2 separate regions of the Homo sapiens genome follow, and region 2 is linked to region 1. The links come from fine-mapping of genetic effects on gene expression. A gene starts in region 1. The other region holds a variant in brackets. All regions are shown on one strand. Distances are from middle to middle.

Region 1 (9,854 bases):
GGCTCACTGCAACTTCTGCCTCCTGGGTTCAAGAGATTCTCCTGCCTAAGCCTCCCGGAATTAAGTTTTTCTTATAGGAAAAAAGGAATTTGATTGTCTCCTCACATCAAATTAGTGTAAATGAAATGACTCCTGTAATCATAAACAAATTACCCCTTAATTGTGCTAGATACATCAATTTCTAAAGGCTTTTATTTGTTGATGTAATTAAATGGTTAAATATTACACAGAATCTAAGTGGGAATAATAATGTGTTAAAATACATTTATGTCTATGTGTATTCAATGATTAGCTGCCAGTTATAAGTGAGAATATGCAGTATTTGGTTTTCTGTTTTTGTGTTAGTTCACTTAGGATAATGGCCTCCAGCTGCATCCATGTTGCTGCAAAGGACATGATTTCATTCTTTTTTATGACTGTGTAGTATTCCATGGTGTATATATACCAAGTTTTCTTCATCCAAACCACTGTTGATGGGCACCTAGGTTGATTCCAAGTCTTTGCCATTATGAATGGCACTGCCATGAACATACAAGTGCACGTGTCATTTTTGTAAAATGATTAATTTTCCTTTGGGTATATACCTAGTAAAGACATCGCTGGGTTGAATGATTATTCTGTTATTCTTTTTTTAAGTTATTTAAGAAATCTCCAAACTGCTTTTCACAGCGGCTGCACTAATTTACATTCCCACCAACAGTGTATAAGCACTCCCTTTTCTCTGCAGCCTAGCCAGCATCTATTATTTACTGGCTTTTTAAAAATGGCCATTTTGACTGGTGTGAGATGGTATCTGTATTAGTCTGCTCTCATGCTGCTAATAAAGACATACCTGAGACTGGGTAATTTATAAAGGAAAGAGGTTTAATTGACTCACAGTTCCACATGGCTGGGGAAGCCTCACAATCATGGCAGAAGACAAATGAGGAGCAAAGTCACATCTTACATGGTGGCAAGCAAGACAGCATGTGCAGGGGAACTCCCCTTTATAAAACTATCAGATCTTGTAAGACTTACTCACTATCATGAGAAGAGCACGGAAAAGACCCACTCCTCATGATTCAGTTGCCTCCCACTGGGTCCCTCCCATGACACGTGGAAATTATGGGAGCTACAATTCAAGATGAAATTTGGGTGGGGACAAAATCAAACCATATCATTCTGCCCCTGGCCCCTTCTAAATATCATATCCTTATATTTCAAAACCAGTCATGCCTTCTCAACAGTAACCTAAAGTCTTTATATATAATATACATATAAAATTTAATATATATTATATAATTATATAATATATATATGAGTCAGTATGTATTTATGAGTCAGTATACATAATATATATTATTATATTATTATTATTATATTATATTATATTATATTATTATTATATAATAATAATATATAATATTATATTATTATATTATATTATATTATTATATTATATTATATTATAAAATATATATATAATATAATATATATATAATATAATATATATTTTAATATTATATATTATATATAATATAATATATATTTTAATATTTTAATATTATATATATTAAATATTATATATATTTTATATACTATATTATATTATATAATTATATAATATATAAATATATATAATATATAATATATATAATATATAATTATATAATATATAAATAATATATATAATATATAATTATATATTATATATAATTATATATTATATATTTTATATATATATTATATATTATATATAATTATATTATATATTATATATTATATATAATTATATATATATTATATATTATATATAATTATATTATATATTATATATATTATATATATAATTATATTATATATTATATATTTATATAATATAATTATATATATATATAATATATATAACCAGCCATTGAATGTGTTGCCATTAGAATCTAAAGAGACATCACAGATGCTGACCTTTCTTCTTACTGGTTGAGGCTGCAAGATACAGTAATTTTTCTTTCACTTTGAAGGAGATAGGCAAAGCACCCCTAGCCACTGGATCCATAAAACCTTTGCCGAAGTGAAAACCTCCAGAATCTTCACAGGGTTTATCTCCCACTTTCTAAAACATGTGTACTACCAAAACCTCCAGCATGCTAGTCACATCTTGCTCATCTTGTCTGATCAGCATGATGCCATCAATGTGTCAATATGATATTCTGTGGATGTCTACATGGTCCAGACCTCTTAAGACTATATTATAAAAAAAGCTAGGGGGTCAATAGAGCACTGAGGGAAAACTGTAAAGAAATAATATTACCTAATCTATCTGATTGTGCACTGTTTTTGATGCTCTTTTCTAATCAGAATAGAGAAGAATGCATCTGACTAATCGCTGGCTAAAAATCATGTATCTGCTCTAGGAATAGATACCATGTCTGACAAAGCAACTCTAATTAGGACCACTAGTTGTTTGAGCTTGAGATAGTCTAAGCATTCTCTAGAATCTTTCTGGCTTCTGCAAGGATCAGGCTGGCAAATTAAATTAAGGTGTGCTAGGCACCACTACCTTTCATCCTTATGTCACTATTTGTGGCATTGGTCTCTGCATTTCTTCTCCCCATGTGGAATACTGTTCTTGATTAAGTGTCATGGCTGGGGATAAAGTTGGGAGAATTGTCAAAGGTGCCCACTTTCCCTTCTGCATTATGATAGTTTTTACCCTACAGGCCAAGGACTCAGCATGGAAGTTATTCTAACTACTAGATATGTCAATTCTAACAGCACATTTGGTGACAGCAAAATCACCACTGGGTATGTCCATAAGTCCAGTGAGACGAGGCAGAGCTGCTTGTTAACCGGAACTCCATTTACGACCTTGGCTCTATATTCTCAATCTAGCTGTAGGGCCTTAGTGTGGGTTGCAGTTATCAATGTCCACTCTGACTTTATGCCCAACAACCCTTGACATGTCTGGGGATTTTTCTTTCTTCAGTGTATAATCACCCAAATAATGGCTTTAGGTCCCTTTGAGGGAGGACTAGGAAGTATAATCACCACAGTATATACTTGTCAAGATGTTGCAAGATCTTTTCTTCTAGGGGTCTGACTAGTTTTTTAATCAATATGTTCTGTATCTGAAAAGTAGCTTAGGACTAGGAGCTGAGCAAGAGATCATGACTTTTTATTGGGGTGATGGAGACCATGTTGAGCCTCTTACTCCTCTATTTCTTCCCCTTCTGGTTATATAGTTACTGAGCAGCACCCTTGTTGACCTCCTTCCTATTTTGTCTGTATATCATAGTAAGGTTTATATATTTCACTTAAAATGAAGAAATATTAATTCTGGGTAAAGCATGTCAAGTTAAGTATGTCTTTTGTAATCCTGAGAGTGACCACTAAAATAACTATACAAATAGATACAGTTAAGAAACATAATAGATACGTTGAAATGCAATACCAAAAAATAATTTCAAATAACCAACAAGAAAGCAGAAAATGGGAAATAGGAGAATTAAAACCAGAGAGAAAAGAAGCAAATAACAAAATGGCAGATCTGATTTTAAAAATCAATAGCTACATAAAATGAAAATAATTTAAACACACCCATTAAAAGATGTGCATTGTCAAATTGGATTTTAAAAACCAAACTCATGACTCTATTATATGCCATCTACAAGAAACTCACTTGAAATACAATTTAGAGCTGGGTATAGTGGCATGTATCTGTAGTTTCAGCTACTCAGGAGTCTGAGATGGGAAGATCACTTGAACCCAGGAGTTCAAGTCCAGCCTTGGCAACATAGCAAGACCATCATCTTAAAAAAATAATAACAAACACAGACGCACACACACACATACACACACACGCATACACATATAATATGAATGTGATGTTTGGCAGGGCCAACAGAATTGAGATCATAACTGCCACTCTGAAAGCATATAGTGTGTGTGTGTGTGTGTGTGTGTGTAGATAAAAATAAACGGATGAAAACAAAATACCACGAAAACAATAATCACAGGAAAGTAAGAATGGCTATATTATTAATATGAAACAAAGTAGACTTTAGAACACAAAAGTTACTAGAGATAAAGATTAACATTACATAATGATAAAAGGGTCAATTCACCAAGAAGACATAACAATTCCAAATGTTGCAAAATACATCAGGCAAAACATGATAGTTTTAAAGGGAGAAATTTGAAAGTCCCTAAGTTTTGTTAAAATCTTCAACATTCCTCTCTTAGTAATCAACAGAACTAGGAGACAGAAAATTAGGAAAAATATAGAAAAAACTGAACAATATCATCAACCAACTAAATGTAATAGATATTATATAATATTCCACTCAACACCAAAAAACTATACAACTTTTCAAGTGCCTATGGAATATCTGCCAAGATAGATCATATCCTGGGTCATCAAATAAGCCTTAACAAATTTGACATACAAAATATTTTTTCTGAGTATAATTGAACTTCTGATTTAAAATTAAATCAATAACCAAAAGATAAGAAAATCTTCAGACACTTGGAAATTAAGCACATTTCTGATTAATCCGTGGGTCAAATAAATTGGAAAATAGTCTGAACTGAGTGAAAATGAAGCTGGGAAGCAGAGGAATGAAAATTTTGATTATCTAGGTAAAGCTGTCAATTAAGCAGACTAGAGCTCTGGGTAGAGAGAAGAGCTTTTCTCTGATTAAGCTGTTTACTTTCTCATGGCTTAAAGACAGCACTTTAAATTTTGGTATTAGCCACAATAATCTTGGACGTAAAAGAGAAATTGCTCCCTATAATATGATATAGCCAGGCAACCCAGTATAAATGCCACTGCTCTGCAGGAACTGGCCGAATATCAATGAGAAGACAAACAGTCCAAGCATGATGACGTGAATGTGATGTTTGGCAGGGCCAACAGAATTGAGATCATAACCTCCACTCTGAAAGCAGTCTTCACAGAAACTTTTCACAGAAGTCAAATAGTTAAAGCAAATTCTAGATACATGGTAGAGACCAGGAGAAAATATGAATAACTTTCTTCTAAACAAGGAGCTCAGTGGATAAACCATACCTCTAGATTCCTTGCTTCCATTTTCCCAGAAGTAAGTTCACTGTATTTTTTCTGTTTTGTTTTGTATTTTGCTTTTGTGTGTGAGTTTGTTTCAGAGGTTTTGTCTTTTCTTATTCCTATCACAAAATTATAAATAAACCTTTATAAACTGAATGACAATCATCTATGCAGAAATTATTTTGAAAAATATTGGGCTACTTTAAAGATTTTATATCTGGTAATTAATATTAGATAAATAAAAACATTGAGTTAGAATGTTTTTTAAAAAATTATGCAAACATTATGTTGTTTTAAACATAACTGAGTGTAGAAATAAGTTTAAATTGGCTAAAAATTTTTTGTGAAGAGCTTAGAGTTTTAAGAATTGGGTTGGAAGACTGAGTTGTTTTTGAAGTTAAAGTTATCTACTTTGATTGCACAATAATGTAGGGCATTTTGGATAAGTGTTCTTCTGACTTTAAGACTGTTTACCAAGAGCACTTACAGAAATATTTTTATTGTTCCTATCGCTCACTCTTAGTCTATAAGAATTTTAGAAATGTAAGATTCTTTCTAGGATCTTTTACTCGTTGGATACAGTGAGTTGAATCAGAATGTGAAATATGTAGCTTCTCTTTACCACAATGTTATTTAAAATGTACATTGGTAAAAAGAATTTTCATACTCCTATAGTGAATACATGTTGTTCTGAATTTTACAACAGTATAAGAGGATAAAAATGAGTCATTACAATTTGAGACTATTTGCCATATGTATAATAAAGTATTCATGTTTTTGCTAGCCTTTACATAAACTGCAGAACATACAAAAATTGGAAAGAAACAAAGTTGGCAATAATACTTTACGATGGAAGATATAAGGGATTGGAGTCAGACTGGAGTTTGCATGCTACCTAAGACTGTAGCTGATTCCATAGTGAGGAGATCATCCTCTTGGCCAATGTCTATTAACTTCGCCAGTGAATTATGCATTTCTGTAGAGAAGCTGTGATATATTTGGGCTTGTGCATGAGGTGGAGTGTAGGGAAACATCACACTCTGGGGACTGTTGTGGGGTGGGGGGAGGGGGGAGGGATAGCATTGGGAGATATACCTAATGCTAGATGACGAGTTAGTGGGTGCAGCGCACCAGCGTGGCACATGTATACATATGTAACTAACCTGCACAATGTGTACATGTACCCTAAAACTTAAAGTATAATAATAAAACGAAAAAAAAAAAAGAAATTCCTCCTGTACAGAGCTTGCATTGGCGGCAGCTGCTTTAAGAACCCAGAAACTTTTGCCCTCTCTGTAGGCTAGCTCACTGTGAAAATATCCCATGGATTTTACCTAAAATTGCTTACAGAGAGCGGCATTATACTTCTATAGATAATTGCATCAGTAACCAGAGAGGAGAAGTACAGCAGCAGACTACCCTCTACCCCCGGTAGGAGTAGTAGCACATCACAGTTTCAGCAAGTTCAATCTTGAGCAAAGAACATGATGTGATTGTTTGTGGGTATGTCTGTATACGGAGTGTGATTTTAGGTAAGGAGAGCCTTGCACAGCTCTCTTAAAAGTATCCATGCTGAATTTTCTGCACCTTAACCTAGGCTGCTTTACTCTTGGAACTGTCTTTCCCTCTTCTCCTTCCATGGGCTCTCTGACCTCTTTACTTGGTCTGCTTCCACTTAGGCCTGCCCCTCAGCCTCATTGCATGGCCATGTGTAGGTTCTTCTTCTAGCAGTGTTCTCTGAGACTGCTGTGGCTAATGTGCCTTCTGTTGCAACTGACCCCTGGACACCTTACTTGAGATTTGGCTCTAGAAAGTAGCACCACCCTGTGTGTGATCCTGTCCCATAAATGAGATGATGGCTTCAGTTGGGGCTCATTCACTTCTCATCACTATGGAGGAGTTCATAGAAACTGCATGGCCAACATGGCATGCATACGGAGGGAGATCACTTGCTTCAGAAGTCAGGACTTATGAGCCAAATGATGGTCTTCAGGGTGGAGCTGCTGGCTTTGTGCTCAAAAGTCTGGACCCATTCTTCCAAGTCATGTCCTTCACATGCTTCCCAGAAAACTGATGATGGTACCTTCCAGAATCTCTTTACTTTCTATAATTCAGCTTAGGTAGCCTGTTTTCTCCCACGGCAAAGACCATTTGAAAGCACTCTAGTCCTACAGTTTTCAGGAGTGGCTTAGCAAATCCTATTTGTGTAGCAGTGGTTGATTGAAGTTCTGGAAAGATGTGGTGCTCTTATTATGCACTGAATTATCTTCTTCTGGGAAGTATTTTATGTGCCTGCTGCAATAAACTGTATGTATAAATTCCCCTACAAAATCACCCCCCATATACAGACATACCCAGAAACAATCACATCATGTTCTTTGCTCAAGATTGAACATGCTGAAACTGTGATGTGCTACTACTCCTACCAGGGGGTAGAGGGTAGTCTACTGCTGTACTTCTCCTCTCTGGTTACTGATGCAGTTATCTATAGAAGTATAATGCCACTCTCTGTAAGCAATTTTAGGTAAAATCCATGGGATATTTTCACAGTGAGCTAGCCTACAGAGAGGACAAAAGTTTCTGGGTTCTTAAAGCAGCTGCCGCCAATGCAAGCCCTGTACAGGAGGAATTTCTACACTCCACCTCCTGCACAAGCCCAAGTATATCAAAGCCTCGCTACAGAAATGCATAATTCATTGGCAAAGTTAATAGACATTTGATGGTAAAAAATGAATCTACTTTGTATGTTCTTTAAATTGAAAATTGAATCACATTTCTACACAACAACAGGCGGATCACAAGGTCAGGAGATCGAGACCATCCGAGCTAACAAGGTGAAACCCCATCTCTACTAAAAACACAAAAAATTAGCTGGGCGTGGTGGCGGGCGCTTGTAATCCCAGCTACTCGGGAGGCTGAGGCAGGAGAATGGCATGAACCCAGGAGGCGGAGCTTGCAGTGAGCCGAGATCGCACCACTGCACTCCAGCCTGGGCGACAGAGCGAGACTCCATCTCAAAAATAAATAAATAAATAAATAACCAGGATAATTAGATTGGAATTCAGCAGAGTGTTAAAATAACTAGAAGGCATTTGTTTGTAAAAAGAGAACAGAGATAATAAATACTTTTGAGTTTTCATAAAATAAGTTATAGTTTCTTAGAAAAGTATTTAAGAGTAACCATAAAAGACATATAACCACCTTTTACATCTTTGGGACAGGAGAAGAAGTGAAGAAGGAGAGGAAAACATTTTCAATTCAATAGAAGGTAAAGATGTAGACAAAACTAGAAGCAAAAGAAAAGTAGGTTTAACGTGAGAATAAGATAGAATGAGAGATCATCCAAAACAAAAATTCATACATGGTTTAATGCATCTCTTAAAATATAGTTATCTATCAGTTTAGATTTCTAAACATAATGCATTGATAGTTTTTTATATAGTAACCAAATATTTAAAAATGCAGCAAAAGGTTAACAACAAAGAGATAGAAACAGATACATTAGGCAAATATTAACCTACAGAAACCTAGTGTCTCCATATTATCAGAAATAGAAGCAACCTATTACTGAAACATAAAAAAGCAATGTTTTATGCACCTAGCTACCTATGCTTTAAATGCACTTGCTGAAAACTAACAGAGATATAATAAGAAATTGCCAAACCTATTATTAGAGTGGAAATTTTTAATTGAACTCTATTATGAAATGATTGATCTAGGAAATATAACATTAGAAAGGATGCTGAAGATTTGAAGAACACAATGAAAAAGATTGAATAGATACGTACAAAACACTTCACCTAAATGGTGAGTTACAGGTATGTTAGGTGCACGTGGAACACTTTCAAATATTAAAATATGCTGCACCAGCGAGGAAGTCTTAAGGAATTTTAAAGAAGCAGTATCTTACTGAGAAGTCATTTCTTTGGTCACAATATAATTGTTAGAAATCAAAAATAAAAAGTCACTAAAAACAAAGAAACTTCAATATAGTGAATGCTAAAGAGGTAATCCTAAGTAACATATGTATGGTCTATTGCCACATTTATGTTACATAGCAAAAAGGAAATAAACCCAAATAACAACACACAGCAATAAGCATTTGTAGTGTGGTGTCTGCAGTGGTTCCTAAGAAACTGCTGATCTTGGATAGGCTTGATGGTATCTCTGGGAGGGGACTGGCTAGCACTCTCAACTGGATGACTGAGAGGACTCAGCTTGGTTTCATTCCGCAGTAGGCTAGGCCAGGTCTGCTCTCACAGCAATGGAAGAAACAAAAAAACAAGCAGATACACTCAAGGTCTCGGGAGGCTGAGGTTCAGAACTGGTGCGACATCACACCTCCCTTCTTCTCTTGGCCCAAGTACTAGCCTGCCTTGATGACAAAAACTCCAAAATTACCAGACAAAGGGTGGACACAGACAGATGGATAATTGGGTCACTGATGCAATCAATCACTCAACTCCAGAATCCATTTTCTCAGCCACTCTGCTAACATTAGTTCGTTATTTCAGCCAAGAAGCCAAAGGAAAAAGTAGCAAAACCAACCCCCAAAAAGAGTAGAAATAAAACCGTGAAAAGTAAGAGGATAAATTAATAAATTAGAAAACATAGTAAGCAATGAAAATGATGAAACAGTAAACTGCTGTTTTGTTTAAAAGGCCATTAATACATTCAAAATTCTAGCAAGACTAATGAATAAAAATAAAAAGAAGCTTAAAAATAGAAGAAAACATACATCCATTTATAATAGGTTTTCAAAAGTATTTTTAGTTATAGATATTTTAAATTCATGCTAATAAATCTAAATATA
Region 2 (9,854 bases), 130 kb after region 1:
ACATATTTATTGAATTTTTACTATGAGCCCAGTCATTGTTCTTGGCCCTAGAGATACAGCAGACAAAAATAGCTCTCCTCATAGGAGACACAGTGAAGGAAAACAGAAAATGTAATATAATAATAAACAAGTAAAGCATGCAGAACATCATGAATGAAAAGTGCTATAGAGAAAATGATACAAGAATGAGGAATTAGGAGTGTAGAGGAGGGATGGGATACAATACTCAATTGGGAGTTGGAGAAGACCTCACAGTTGACCATTTGAGCAAAGACCTGAAGAAGAGGATGGGGATGGAATAAGCCATATAAATACGTTGGATAATAAGAATCCCGGTTGAAGGAATGGCCAATGGCAAGGTCTGGAGGGAGGAGCCCACCTGACGTGCCTGAGCAGGCCAGTGGAGTTGGAATGGAGTGAGTGAGCAGAACAGTCCAGAATGACTTTAGAAAAGTAGGGACCAACCACGTATGGGATTGTGGAAATTTTAAGGAGTTTGTCTTTTACTTTTTGAGAGACAGAGAAAAAAAATCGGTGCTGGAGGGTTCTTCTCTTCTCTGGTGTGTTTTTAAAGAATTCATTAGGCTGCGGTATCAGGAACAACCCATAAGAGATAGTATTGGAGACCAAATTTTGGAAATTGAAGGTAGAGCCAACAGCATTGGCTGGTAGCTAAAGAATGACTCCAAATTAACTTTCATGGGGAAGACTACGGAAGAAGAAAATTAGGGAGGGGGAATGTAACAGTCCGTTTTCACGCTGCTGATAAAGACATACCTGAGACTGGGTGATTTATAAATAAAAAGAAGTTAAGGGACTCACAGTTCTGTGTGGCAGAGGAAGCCTCAAAATCATGGCGGAAGGCCAAAGGCACGTCTTACACGGTGGCAGACAAGGGAGAATGAGAACCAAGCAAAAGCAGAAACCCCTTATAAAAACATAAGATCTCATGAGACTGATTCACTATCACAAGAACAGTATGGGGAAAATCGCCCCCATGATTCAATTATCCCTCACTGGGTCCTTCCAAAACACATGGGAATTATGGGGGCTACAATTCAAGATGAGAGTTGGGAGAGGATGGAGCCAAACCATATCAGGGAGCAGGTTAGAAGTTTGGTTTAGGACAAGTTAAGTTTAAGATGTCTGCTAGACATCTCACTAGGGACGTTATGGAGAGAGTTTGTTATATGAATTGAGTGCTCACCAAAAGATCCCACTATAGAAAAAAAAAATCTCTGGGTGCTGTCAACCTATTGGTGGTAGTTCAACCTATTGGTGGTAGTTAAGCCATGGAAATGGATGAGATCCCCAGGAGAAAGAATGTAGCTTTCTGAGGACTGGTTGGAGCATTCAGGGGTGAGGAAAAGCCTGCAAAAGAAATTTAAAAGGGATGATCAGGGAGGGAAGGAGGAAAACTGGGAGAGTCAGGCACCCTCAACAGGCAGTTATTAGAGCAGGCTATATCAAACGTATCCAAGAGGTAAACAATCATAAGGAAACAGACTCCTAAGCCCTCAATTTCCTATGCATGCTTTGCTAAAATCACTAGATTTGAGGATGTTTCAATGATGAACGTGCAGATTCTTGCTTCCCAATGCTTCTTTTGTAACAACTCTTCTCCCACCTAATAAACTGCAGTCACTCCTCACCCCCTTATGAATCTTACCATTAGCATGGCTCTGGGTATAAAAACATCTGGAATGACACACAGTGAGATTACTAAAATGACAGTGTCCCTGTTGAGAAGGTGAATGATGCTAACAATTAGAAAACCATCGAGTCAAATGGTTTCTAATTTTCTCTTTCAGCCAAATTATAAGATAAACTAGTTGAATTGCCAGCTGATGCATCAGTTAAAAGAATTTTTAGTAATAGAATGCTTTGTGACTTTTGCCAAATATCTTGGGAGAAACATAAATAATTTAGTAACAGTACAATAACATTCTATTCCTATTTACTTATTTGTGTAAGTTAGTTTTCTCGATATTTAGGTATATATAAATGAAAAAAAGGAACAGATATTGTTCTAAGAGTTATCTTATTCCAGCAATTAGCAATATTCATTCATAAATAAGTGAACTAAAAGAAAAATAAACTTCAATTCACCTCATTAAGATACACATTTCCAATAAAATTTAATTTTAATGTTTAATATTTACATATTAACATTTATATGATATGCATGTTTTTGAGAAATTGTGAATAATAATTATAATGATAACCCAATACTGCAGAACGTTGGATCACATAGTCTTTTGGTAAAAGAAAATTTAAAATTAAATTTGTATCTTACTTTTTTTAAATGGAAAGATATCTTGGTGATATCCTTTGGGGGCTCACATAGAAGTAACTTTTATGTTTTTTTGCAGAACTGAGGATTTGAAAAGAACCAACCAAAATCTCAACGGTACAGGAATGCTCCTCCCCAAGAATGCTGTTATCTGCAAAGACTTTCAGTGCTCTTTACTTTTCAATTACCTTGCCATAAGGATCTTATCACACCTCTCTCCACGTTCTCTTCCAGCCAAATTATAACAGAAACTAGGTGAATAGCCAGGTGATACATCAATTAAAATAATTTTTGATAATAGAATGCTTGATGACTTTTGTCAAATATCTTGGGAGACAAGCAAATACATCTATTTTTGCTCAAATAAGAGGATTGTTTAGATCTCCAATAATTTAGAGCACGTTATTGATATAGTGCATTGCCATACATACCCTGGGGTCACAAGATTTTCCAGAGTATATGTGAGCATAAGAAGCTTTAAAGAACTCAACTTCCAGATACACAAACTCCTTTTGACCACTTTCCTTAAAAAGATGCTTGAGAAGGCATTTGTGGACTTCCAGTTCTTCTTTTCCACTTCCGTTTTTGCATTTTTTCTGGTTTACAAAAGAAAGGCATTCCTGGTACTGATTCTGAATCTTACTGTGGAACATTACTCCGAAAAATAATTAAAAAAAAAAAAAAAAGCAAGCGCTTTTGATCATTCCTGAGTGTGTGTTTTCTAAAAACAAACACTTTGTAAGAAAGGGTAAAAGGAAATACCCAAAGCTATCCCTAAGTAAAAAGAACAAAACTGGAGGAATCTCATTACCTGACTTCAAATTATACTACAGAGCTATAATAACCAAACCAGCAGGGGACTGGCATAAAAACAGACACGTAACAATGGAACTGAATAGAGAACCCAGAAACAAATCCACACACCTACAGTGAACTCATTTCCCACGAAGTTGCCAAGAATGTACACTGGGGAAAAGACTGTCTCTTCAATAAATGGTACTGGGAAAACTGGATATCTGTATGCAAAGCAATGAGACCAGACCCCCATCTCTCACCATATACAAAAATCAAATCAAAATGGATTAAAGACTTAAGTCTAGAACCGCAAACTATAAAACTACTACAAGAAAATCTTGGGGAAATTCTCTAGGACATTGGCTGGGCAAAGATTTCTTGGCAACACCCCACAAGCACAGGCAACCAAAGCAAACATGGACAAATGGGATCATATCAAGTTAAAAAGCTTCTGCACAGCAAAGCAAACAATCAACAAAGTGAAAGAGAGCCCACAGAATGGGAGAAAATATTTGCAAACTACCCCTCCGACAAGATATTAATAGCCAGAATATATAAGGAGCTCAAACAACTCTATAGGAAAAAATCTAATAATCCCATCCAAAAAATGGGCAAAAGATTTGGATAGACATTTCTTGAAAGAAGACATACAAATGGCAAACAGGCATATGAAAAGATGCTCAACATCACTGATCATCAGAGAAATGCAAACCAGAGCTACGATGAGCTATCATCTCATTCCAGTTAAAATGACTTATATCCAAAAGACAAGCTTTGTACATTTTTGGTAGAAATGTAAATTAGTACAACTATGGAGAACAGTTTTGAGGTTCCTCAAAAAACTAAGAATTGAGCTACCATATAACCCAGCAATCCTACTGCTGGGTATATACCGAAAACAAAGGAAATCAGTATATTGAAGAGACATCTGCACACCTTATTTGTTGCAGCACTGTTTACAATAGCTAAGATTTGGAAGCAACTTAAATGTCTGTGAACAGAGGAATGGATAAAGAAAATGTGGTACATATACACAATGGAGTTCTATTCCGCCATTAAAAAAAAAAAGAAAGAAAGAAAGAATGAGATCCAGTCATATGTAACAACATAGATGGAACTGGAGATCATTATGTTAAGTGAAATGAGCCAGGCACAAAAACATAAACATTGCATGTTCTCACTTACTTGTGGGATCTAAAAATAAAAACAATTGAACTCATGGACATAGAGGGTAGAAAGGTGGTTACAGGCTGAGCGGGGTTGCTCAGGCCTGTAATCCCAGGACGTTGGGAGGCCGAGGCGGGCAGATCACGAGGTCAAGAACTCGAGACCATCCTGGCCAATATGGTAAAACCCCGTCTCTACTAAAAATACAAAAATTGGCCGGGCCCAGTGGCTCACGCCTGTAATCCCGGCACTTTGGGAGGCCGAGGCGGGCGGATCACGAGATCAGGAGATCGAGACCATCCTGGCTAACACGGTGAAACCCCGTCT[C/T]TACTAAAAAATACAGAAAATTAGCCGGGCGTGGTGGCAGGCGCCTGTAGTCCCAGCTACTCAGGAGGCTGAGGCAGGAGAATGGCGTGAACCCGGGAGGCGGAGATTGCAGTTAGCCAAGATTGCGCCTCTGCACTCTAGCCTGGCAGCAAAGCGAGACTTCGTCCAAAAAAAAAAAAGGTTGTTACCAGCCTGGGAAGAGTAGTGGAGGGATATAGGGGGAGATGGGGATAGTTAATGGGTACAAAAATAATAAAACAAAAGAATAAATCCTACTCTTTGATAGCATAATAGGGCGACTATAGTCAATGATAACTGAATTGCATATTTTAAAATAAAGAATGTAACTGGATTGTTTGTAACACAAAGGATAAATGCATGAGGGGATAGATACCCCATTCTCCATGATGTGCTTATTTCACATTGCATGCCTGTATCAAAATATCTCATGTACCCTGTATTAGTTCGTTTTTATGCTGCTGATAAAGACATACCCGAGACTGGGCAATTTACAAAAGAAACAGGTTTATTGGACTTACAGTTCCACATGGGGAGGCCTCACAATCATGGAGGAAGCCAAGGAGGAGCAAGTCACATCTTATGTGGATGGCAGCTGGCAAAGAGAGCTTGTGCAGAGAAACTCCCGTTTTTAAAACCATCAGATCTCGTGAGACCCATTCACCATCATGAGACCAGCACAGGAAAGCCCCGCCCCCGTGATTCAATCATCTCCCATCGGATCCCTCTCACAACACGTAGGAGTTATGGGAGATACAAGATGAGATTTGGGTGGGGACACAGAGACAAACTATATACCCCATAAATATATATACCTACTATGTACTCACAAAAACTTCAAAAGATAATTTAAAAAAAATAAGTAAAATTAAAGGCATTGTGATGAATGCCAAAAAAAAAAAAAAAAAAAGAGTAAAAGGGAAAAAGACAGCACCTTAGTATATCCAGGGAACGAATTCATGAGAAGGTTTTGTGCTATGGCTATACATCTGTCTGTCTTTCCATGCATTAGAATTTGGAGGTGAGAAGTTTGTGACAGAGATGTGTATTAAAATGTTTATCTTAATTAAAATGAAGCCAGTTTTTTTTTCTGACAGAAAAAATATGCTTCCCTGCATGGTTGATTTTTACTGTGAAGACTGGTTTTGCCAGTTAGATTATATGGCAGATATTTTTCCATACATTAGATATGTATAAATATGCAACTCTAAGATTCTGAGGGAAACACACACGCACAAACACACACACACACACACACACAGTGCTGAAATTCAGGTAGTATACGAATATACAAAGATTTAAACTTAAGAAGAAAATTTTCGATGTCAACTTAAAAATGTATGAAAGGTCGTGAAGGCAGCAGAATAATGATTATTGCAGGTGTGATCTACTGATGAATGCTGAAATTAGTGGCCAAAGACTTAAGAAGAAACAGTATATTTGTATAACATCCAAGAAACTCCCCATAGTCTGAATTAACTACAGTGGATTAAATTCCTTGAGACTCCTCCCTTCAAGAGAGGAAGTCTAATTCCTTCTTCCTGGGTGAGGGTAGGATTTAATAACTTGCTCCTAATGAATAGAGTGTGAACAGGAGAAAGTGCTGCCTTTATAGTGGAGAAATCTGGCAGAAACGCCTTAACCAAGTGACCAGGGTTAATATCACCAGTAATAAGTCATGCTAACATTGTATACACTCTTTACACACATTGTGTATGCTGGAATCAGAAACACTATTTTCCTCTATGGTAGAACTTTTCCCCAAACTCCATAACACCAGCCCAATCATAAGAAAATTTTGGATTAACCCAAATTGAGGGGTATCTTATAAAATACCTGAGTAGCATTCTTCAAAAGTGTCAAAGTCATGAAAAACAAGGAGACTGAGAAACTGTCACACATTGGAAGAGACTAAGGAGGCATGATGACTAAATGCAAAATTGTAGGTCCTAGATTAAATCCTGGGACAGAAAAAAGGACATCAGTGAAAAAAACTGGTGAAATCAGAATAAAGTGCAGTTTTGTACCAATGTGAATTTTTTAGTTTTGACAAATGGACGATGGTTATATAATATGTTCACGTGAGGGGAAGCTGGGGAAAATGTTCATCAGTATTCTCAGTACTATCTTGGCCACTCTTCTTTGAGTGCGAAATAATTTCAAATTTAGAAGTGTTTTAAAAAATACTATAACCCGTCGGGCACAGTGGCTCATGCTGGTAATCCCAGCACTTTGGGAGGCCAAGGTGGGAGGATCATGAGGTCAGGACATCGAGACCATTCTGGCCAACATGGTGAAACCCCGTCTCTACTAAAAATACAAAAATTAGCTGGGCATGGTGGCACATGCTTGTAATCCCAGCTACTCAGGAGGCCAAGGCAAGAGAATCACTTGAACCAGGGAGTCAGAGATTGCAGTGAGCCGAGATCACACCACTGCACTCCAGCCTGGCAACAGAGCAAGACTCCGTCTCAAAAAAAAAAAAATAAAATACTATGACCAATTAAATGACAGCAAAATGAATGTGTGAGAGGGCATATAGTTTTCCAAAATGTAATGAGTATGAAAGGAATAATAGTTGAACCTCCCTGTCCTGGAAACAAAAGTAAAGAGTCAGTGTTTCGTTATGTCAAATGCTAGTGATAGAGCAAGTGAGGTGATGAAAATGGATTAACTGATCCGCTGAAAATGGATGAATGGATTGAGCAATAATAGAAAGGTCATCAGTAACCTTAACAAGAGCAATGTTGATGGATTGCAGTGCGGAATCCTGGAAGTGAGATCAAAAGAGCATGGGAACAGAAGATAGGAAAACAATACAGACAGCTATTTCAATGATTCTTTTCTGTAAAGGGGCACAGAGAAAAGGCATTGGTGCTGGAAGGGATTTGCATGTTCAAGAAAGAGTTTTATTTAAAGTGAGAGAAATTACAGCATGTTTGACTGTATGATAATAAGAATGGTCTAGCCTGGCATGGTGGCTAACACCTGTAATCCCAGCACTTTGGGAGGCTGAGGCAGGCAGATCATGAGGTCAGGAGTTGACCAACATGGTGAAACCCCGTCTCTACTAAAAATACAAAAATTAGCCAGGCATGGTGGCACACGCCTATAATCCCAGATAGGAGGCTGAGGCAGGAGAATCACTTGAACCTGGGAGGCAGAGGTTGCAGTGAGCCGAGATCACACCACTGTACTCCAGCCTGGGCAACAGAGTGAGACCCCGTCTCAACAAAAAAAAACAACAACAAAAACAACAACAACAACAACAACAACAAAAAGAATGGTCTAGAAGAAAGAAGACTGGAATGATGAAGCAGAAGAGAAGGGAGGCTTACATAACATCTTGCGGTAATGAAAGGGGATGGAATCTGGTATAGGATCCAGATCCAGTAAGTGAGTAGATGTGTGGATGGGAGATGACAGAATTCTCTTCTGCTAGCTTTTTTTTTTCTCAGTGAAGTGAAAAAAGGAGAATAAGAAGGGGGAAAGTGCTATAAATTTGGAGGAAGAGGATAAGGAGAGTGAAAATATTAATACAATTGAAGGTGGTAGGATTTCTGGGCAGCACTAAGGTCCAGCTTGGGATTAGTGATTATGAATTTAAAGTGAGAATTTCAACATGTTCCATGATTCTCTAGAGTCATGTTCTGGTGCATAAAGCAGGTGTGCAGAAGGCAGAGTTAGAAGAAAGACAAGGATATCAAGGGTATATGCAAGGACTGATATAATGCTGAAACCATTTAAGCTGGGCAAGGAATGAAGTGATGACATGCAAATGGAGAGAAATCGTGAAACGTTAGTCACATAAATAGATTGTAGGTCAAGTAATTAATAGAAAGCAGGATATTATCAGGATAGGAGGCAGTGGTTAGAGGTTGGAATGAGGGAGGGATTGCAAGTATTGGTGCTGACCAAGTGTCCTGTCCAGGAGTGTGCTGGTAAACCTGCGTTCTCTTTCATTTCTAGCTGGAAGAAGGATCAGAGGCACATTACGTTCACTTAAAGTCTGTCCCCAGGGCTGCATTAATTGCCCTACCCTCTGTCATCCCATAGTACAAGGGAATGAGACCAGTTGGACATTCCACAGAACATCACATTAATCCACCAAATCAGCACCATCATGGTGATCCATACACACGAGCAAGAGGTAGCAAATAGATTGGAGGCTTTGGTAAGAAATATGCACCCCAAAGGGTGGGAGATAAACCCTGTAAAACTCAAGGATCACCATATTTTTTCAGGGACCTAGAGATCTGGATTTTACTGGGACTTGGTCTTCTCAGTATTTTTAAACATCATGTTTAAATCTTTATTTACTAAAAAGAAAGCCCAGTGCTTGGTAATTGTCTTCAAGATCTGGAAGCAGTATATTCCTCACTTAGGAATATGGCTGCAACTCATATGTCATTGCAGTTACACATTTGGAAATCAGGGAAATGACCTCCAGGTACCTACAGGGCCCCAGTGGACCCAGTTTAAGACAGACCTGAGTCAGAACTTCAGTTATTACCTGATCCTCACACATACACCTACTCTAACAGGAGCAGGGGGCATCATGGCTCTTGGGGTTTCCAAGTACCAGCATCAAATCAGGCTCTGTGTTGAAAAGCCCTCAAAAGATCTGGGTCTTCCCCTTTCCTTAATATGTGGTTACCTGAGTAATTTCTGGAGGTCCCTTTAAGGAAGGTCGGAGGGAGAATTACCGTACACACTGTGGTAGAGTCTTTCTTCATGGGGCTCTGGACTCTCTGTCTGTAGATGCTGTAACTGAGAAATGACTTCGGTCTGGAAACTGGGCAAGATCAGGAGACTTCCTGTTGGGTCAGCTTCTTGTTTTCTGCTTGTCTGTTCTTGATTTCTTAGGGTATGTATATTAATAATATTGTCACTGAGTTCCCATCTTTCCCATTCTTATGGACATCATGTTCTATTAGCCATCACCGTAAATCCCTGTGGATCAGGTTCCCCTGACTGTCATCCCAAGTTGCTTTGCATTATGCTAATTATGCCCTTCTAATTTCCATTGGTTAAGTGCTGTCTGTTGGCCTCTGCTATTCTAAAATCCTATCATCCACATTGCTCCTGGGAGGCACAATTACAGCATCTCCTACTGTCAACCCTGCCCATAAAGGACAGCACCACTGGGCTTCTCAACAATACTGACACCTTCCTCACCAGCTCATTCCTACTGCTTTGATAAAGTGTCCTCTAAGCCCTCCCAAGGAATGTACACATTAGTGGGTTTCCCAGT

Direction of the effects. Positions count from the first base shown, and alleles are read on the strand shown. Sizes are in standard deviations (SD) of each study's normalised expression.
With allele T in place of C in region 2, the expression in prefrontal cortex of the gene that starts at base 4,902 in region 1 is higher (large effect, 0.94 SD a copy in ROSMAP).

The links. PIP is the estimated chance that this variant, and not a neighbour inherited with it, causes the effect. A credible set is the group of variants that fine-mapping cannot tell apart.
Region 2: its variant is the best candidate, but not a certain one, in a credible set for the expression of ABCA8 in prefrontal cortex (ROSMAP, PIP 0.90).

Annotation. Positions count from the first base shown.
Region 1 is chr17:68,950,440-68,960,293 of GRCh38, reverse strand. ABCA8 (ATP binding cassette subfamily A member 8) reads left to right here and starts at 4,902. Exons shown (of 40, transcript NM_001288985.2): 1 at 4,902-5,075.
Region 2 is chr17:68,822,393-68,832,246 of GRCh38, reverse strand. LOC105371874 (a long non-coding RNA gene) reads right to left here and starts at 9,372. Exons shown (of 3, transcript XR_001752986.3): 1 at 9,258-9,372. The variant C/T (reference allele first, on the strand shown) is at 4,583.